Homo sapiens: one gene and its partner. The protein of the gene in region 1 interacts with the protein of each later gene in a pairwise test. Each region holds a gene or a part of one and is shown on either strand. Other genes may lie near its edges.

Region 1 (2,928 bases):
TTCTATTCAGTTTGACACGAATGGAGATGGGGAGATCACCCTGGTGGAGCTACAGCAGGCCATGCAGAGACTCCTGGGGGAGCGGCTCACCCCCCGGGAGATCTCTGAGGTTGTCCGGGAGGCTGATGTTAATGGAGACGGCACAGTTGACTTTGAAGGTGACATTGACGGGGCGTGGTGGGGAGCGGGGGCAGCCACCGCAGGAATCCACTTCCAACTCACTGTCAGATTTTCCAAGTTGGCCACTCCTTCTCACTCCTCTCCAAGTTTGAGAATGGAAGCGGGTGGCAGGTTTTGGAAGCATTTGTTCTGTCCCTTTCTTCCCAGGCTATTCATTTCAAAGAGCTGGGTGTCGCTCACTTCTGGTGGCTCCGAGGAACACCTCAGCCAAGGCCCTTTCCTTCCCATGCTCAGGACGCCCTTCCGCCTTGCCCATTCCTTGTTAGTTTGCAGGGCACCTTTTATCCTAGGAAGAACTTGTCCCATCAGAAAGAGACTGGACTGGCTAGCAGCTGGAGCTCTGGGGTCAGGTTCAGGGGCTTCAAATTCAGGATCATCGCTGACTCAGCATGTGGCTTATGCTACTCCCTTTTTCTCTTTAAGGGTCAGTTTTCCCATCTGTAAAATGAGGTGGATGATGACACCTTTTGGAGAAAACTAAAAGAAATCATGCACAAAGCACCACTGTATTTTTAAATTTTCCTTCCCTGTCTTTGCTCAAGTTGTCCTTCCGTCTGGAATACCCTTTCCCCTCTCCCCTGGCTAACTCCTAGTTATGTTCCTGGAAGGTACCTCCCACCTCTCTTACTGGGCTCCGTGTCCCTCTGCTGGCTCCCCAGTAATACCTCCCGCTTGCTTCTGCAGTAATACGGATTCGTGGCATCTCTAGAGTTTATTGCCTATTTCCTTCTGAGACCATGGACCAATTCCTTCATCATCACTATATCCCCAAATCCTAGCACTGAGCCCAGCATGAGTATATTGGATCACTGAATAAGTGAAAAGGATTGGGGTTCTACATGGATGAGACGTGGGGTTCTTTTTTATGTGAGGCATAGGAAGGCATGTCGGCCGGACATGGTGGCTCACGCCTGTAATCCCAGCACTTTGGGAGGCCGAGGCGAGTGGATCACCTGAGGTTAGTAGTTTGAGACCAGCCTGGCCAACATGGCGAAATCCTGTCTCTACTACGAATACAAAAAAATTAGCCGGAAGTGGTGGCAGGTGCCTGTAATCCCAGCTACTTGGGAGGCTGAGACAGGAGAATTGCTAGAACGCTGGGGGCGGAGGTTGCAGTGAGCTGAGATCGCGCCATTGCACTCCAGAGCAACACTCCGTCCAAAAAAAAAAAAAAAAAAGCATGTCAAGTTCTAATTGTGACATTCTTTGGTTCAAAGATCTCAGCACCTATCTGCTGCTTATGGACAAAAATCCAAAATTCTGGCCGGGCTCAGTGGCTCATGCCTGTAATTTCAGCACTTTGGGAAGCCAAGGTTGGCGGATCACCTGAGGTCAGGAGTTCGAGACCAGGGGGGCCAACGTGGTGAAACCCCATCTCTACTAAAAATATACAAATTAGCTAGGAGTGACAGTGCACGCCTGTAGTCCCAGGCTATACGGGGGCTGAGGCAGGAGAATTGCTTGAACCCAGGAGGTGGAGGCTGCAGTGAGCCGAGGTCACACCACTGCACTCCAGCCCGGGCAACAGTGAGACTCCATCTCAAAAAAAGAAAAAAAGAAAAAAAGGCCAGGCGCGTGGCTCACACCTGTAATCCTAGCACTTTGTGAAGCTAAGGCAGGCAGATTGCCTGAGCTCAGGAGTTCAAGACCAGACTGGGCAACACCGTGAAACCCATCTCTACTGAAATACAAAAAGTTAGCCAGGGGTGGTGGCATGTGCCTGTAGTCCCAGCTACTTGGGAGGCTGAGGCAGGAGAATTGCTTGAACTTGGGAGGCGGAGGTTGCAGTGAGATCGCCCCACTGCACTCCAGCCTGGGTGACAGAGCGAGACTCCGTCTCCAGAAAAAAAAAAAAAAAGTCCAAAATTATTTGTCTGATATGCAAGTCTATCCATCATCTGGCCTCGCCCACCCACCCAGCCTGTATCTTCTGTAGCTATTCTCTGAACTTTTAAGTTCTGGCACAAACTTGGTGCCTGCTTTATGTTCTCCAACCTCCGTTCCTAGGCATCAGATGCTCCGTCCACTTACCACATCTTTCAGTCTCATCCATCCCTCAGGAACTCACATCAAGGCAACCTTTGTCAGGAAGCTTCTCTCCATCCTTCCCTCATGTCTTCCTCCCAGCTGTGAAGTCTTACAGAAGTTTTTCTGTTCCTCTCCATGGAAGTTATCACAGCAGACCTTGCTGTGTTGAGTTGTATTAGCTTCCAAGGCCTCCATCCTAGATAGAGAGGAGGAAGGGCCATTCTCTAAACCATATATGCTGTATGTCCCAGTATGGAAACACAGTAGAGGCTGGTTGGACACCTGCTAGATCTAGCCAGGATTAGGTGTGCAGTGGACATCAAGTGACATCTGGAGAAGGTGGGGTGGGGGTGGGAGATGATCCTCAGGCCAACCAAAGGCAAGGGAAGGTCAGGATGACCTCAAGACCCGGGTGGGCAGCAAGATCGTCTTGAGCCACAGCAAAGTCAGGTGCAACCTGCATTCCTTCCAGGGTTCACCATTCACTATCCACGTGGCCTCAGGTATGTTGGTGACCCTCGCTGGCGTAAGTTTCCTTATCTGTAAAGTGACACTTATCCCTCCAGGATGGTTGAGATGATGAAATCTCATAGTGACAATCACAGGTTTTTTGGGTTTTGTTTTTTAGATGGAGTCTCACTCCGTCACCCAGGCTGCACTACAGTGGTGCAACCTTGGCTCACTGCAACCTCCACCTCCTGGGTTCAAGCAATTCTCCTG
Region 2 (3,006 bases), on another chromosome or scaffold:
GCTCTATTACCCTTGAAATTTCATTCTAGAGCTGTGCAGTCCCATAGAACTTTCTGCAATGACTGAAATGCTCGATAGTCCTTACAAGCCACATGTAACTACTGAGCATTTGAAATGTGGCTAATGTGAGTGAAGAACTGCATTCTTCTTTTTTTTTTAATGTGAATTACATTTAAATAGTCACATGTGGTTGGTGGCTACTTATTTAACAGCACAGTTCAGCACAGCACAGTATTTGATAATGAAGAGGCCTCTTGAATGACGTCTTCTGGATCAGTACCTATCCCAGATAGGAGTAAACAATGCCCCCACCTCCCCGCCCGCCGACCAGCATTGCACCATCATTATCCATCGCCTGACTTTCAAAAGGGAAAGAATTTGGAAGGATGAGCCTATCCTCCTTGCTGAATATCCGATTCTTCACCGCCTTTCCCCCATATTCCTCCCTTTCTCCACATCCTGAGACTTCTCAGGAAGGGCCTAGACCTTTATTTGAAGGGACAGAATTGAGAAGGTTTGGAACTTACTGCCAAAAGGACCAAGCAAACATGCCCCTGGAGCATGTATAAATAAAGCACATATAAATGGAAAGCAGAATATGAAAAATGGCATTTCACTCTGTTTGCTGCTATGACAAAAATACATATGCAAATACAAAATACATATGCAAATACAAAATACATATGACAAAATACATATGACAAAAATACATAATTTTCTTAGATTAAGAAGTTACAGTAAATTTTCTTAGATGTGGATATATTATTGTGATTATGTAAGACAAGTTTCTTGTTTTTTGGGGATGCATGCTGGAAGATTTAGGAATAAAATGCCATGATATAATGTCAGTGTGTGTGTGTGTGTGTGTGTGTGCGCGCACGCATGCACGCATACATAATACACATATAGATGCATACATAGAGTAGGTAAATTGATGCATTGACAAATACATTGTTTAGATACATGTATTGCCTACATACATGCATAGATTAGATGGTAGATACATAGATGTAAATAAATGATAGGGCAAATTGTCTATAATTGTTGAATATTAGAGTGGGCATAGGGGTGCTCATAGGGAAAACATGATGGACAACAGAACTACTGCTAATAAAAACAGCTTTTATTACTGCTGAGTGGAGGCCTCTTAAGGCTAGTGTGAGAAGTGGGTGGGTGTTGCTTTACCAGCCCCTCCAATCAGGTGATGCGCCAGAGAGGCATCGAGGCAGGGCCAGGCAACGTCCACACAGGAGGGAGCAATCACAGGAAGGAGGAAGGAGCCACAGTCTGTATGGGCAGGACGGTAAGGACAATGGGCAGGATGGTATTAGATCTTCTCTATGCCATCTCCTTCCCACTCCTGCCTCATTCCAAGCCATACAGTAGTGGGCAGCCAGGCCAGAGCAGGGCCTGAGAGCCACTAAGACTGGCCAGGTGACAGTGGGAGGAAGGGCAAGGAAGGCAAAGCAGTCCTGAGTCCAGGGAATTCGGCTGTGGGGGCAAGTGGCCTGTGGGGACAAATAGAGAGAGCTTGGGGTTATTGCTCCCACCCCACCTCTCAAAGTCACTATGGGAGAGAGGCTGAGACATCAGTTTCCCACCCTGCATATACACACTTGAATCCCAGTCTCACATCCTTTACCTGCTATGGCTGTCAGTGATACCATAGACTCAGGGGTTACTAGTCTCCGTAATTTTGTGGACCATGCAAAGAATGAGGAAAGCTGTATTGAGATTCCTTTGATGACCCCCAATGGAGATCCATGCCCTCCTGGAGGTTGAGTCAGTCGACCCTCCCTACATCCTGCAGGACTGAGGCCTGGCCTGAATTCTTACCCCAGCAGGGCTTGAGACAGGCTTTAGGTGGGGTGTCACTCAGACACCTTTCTGGTGCTGTTGCCCAGCACAGCTGATAGCAGGAGGGACCCAGTGGTTCCAGGGCAGGCAGGGCTGCTGTGGGCACACTGCCAGGGGACTGCTAAAAAAAAAAAGCAAGAGAAGAACCTTAGCTTCCAGTGATGCCTCCTGTAGAGAACGCCGGGACCCCAGAGCTGCCTGCCACCCAAGTAGTATCCTGCACAACTCCAGAGGGCACCATTCACATAGTAGACTTTGGGTTAGTACTTTCTTGACATGAACACTGTGGGGCCCTGGAGAGCCGGAGATCCTGGCTCAGGCCAGAAATGGAAGAGCCCATGAGCCCTTCAGTCTTCCCAGGGCACAGACTCCCCTCTCCTCCCGAGTACCTGTGCAGAGATGATTCCTGGGGCAACCCTTGGTACAGTCAGCCCCTGGGAAGCACCTATAAAATGAGAGTGAATCCACTCAGAAGGAGGAATTGGGGTTAGGGACGGGAGGAGTGTGGTGAGAGGCAGGAAGGTTGGATACAAAGAGGTTCTAGGAAAGTCAGCCACTTCTTGCAGGGGTGTGAAGAGATGGATATTTTAACCCAAAACTGTCCTCTTCCCCAAGACAGGTCCTTGGGAAACTGGAGAAGAATGATTAAATTCCAGTGATGGTACTGGGGACAGTGCAGCCTTAAGATCCGGGACTGTGTGTGCCCAGCATCTAGCACAGGGTCTGGCACTGGGGAGATGCTGAGTAAATATTGGATGGATGGGTGGATGGATGCACAGATTAATGGAAAGATGGATGGATGGATGGATGCATGGGTGCATGGGTGGCTGGATGGATGCATGGGCGGATGCATGGGTGGATGGATGGATGAATGCATGAGCAGATGCATGGATGGATGCATGAATGAATGGGTGGATGGATGGATGGATGGATGGATGGATGGATGGATGGATGGATAAATGGATAGGTAGATAGGTGGGTGAGCAGATGGGTGGGTGACTGGCTGGCTGGATGGATGGATAGATGGGTGGATGGATAAATGGATGGATGGAGAGATGGATGCATGGATAGATGGGTGGATAAATGGGTAGCTGGGTGGATGGGTGGGTGTGGTGGGTGGATGATGCCTGGATGAATGGATGGATGGAT

The links.
Region 2: the proteins of CABP5 (region 1) and PAX4 interact in a two-hybrid assay, tested with the Homo sapiens proteins (one large-scale study listed by BioGRID).

What each region holds. Positions count from the first base shown.
Region 1 is NC_000019.10:48,031,445-48,034,372, reverse strand, and holds part of CABP5 (calcium-binding protein 5), read left to right. Parts: intron 1-10; coding exon 11-158; intron 159-2,928. UniProt on the Homo sapiens protein: Inhibits calcium-dependent inactivation of L-type calcium channel and shifts voltage dependence of activation to more depolarized membrane potentials. Involved in the transmission of light signals.
Region 2 is NC_000007.14:127,609,699-127,612,704, forward strand, and holds the end of PAX4 (paired box protein Pax-4), read right to left. Parts: intron 2,303-3,006; coding exon 2,247-2,302; intron 1,979-2,246; coding exon 1,837-1,978; intron 1,509-1,836; coding exon 1,366-1,508; 3' UTR 1,288-1,365; coding exon of another isoform or gene 1,154-1,287; 3' UTR 594-1,153; downstream 1-593.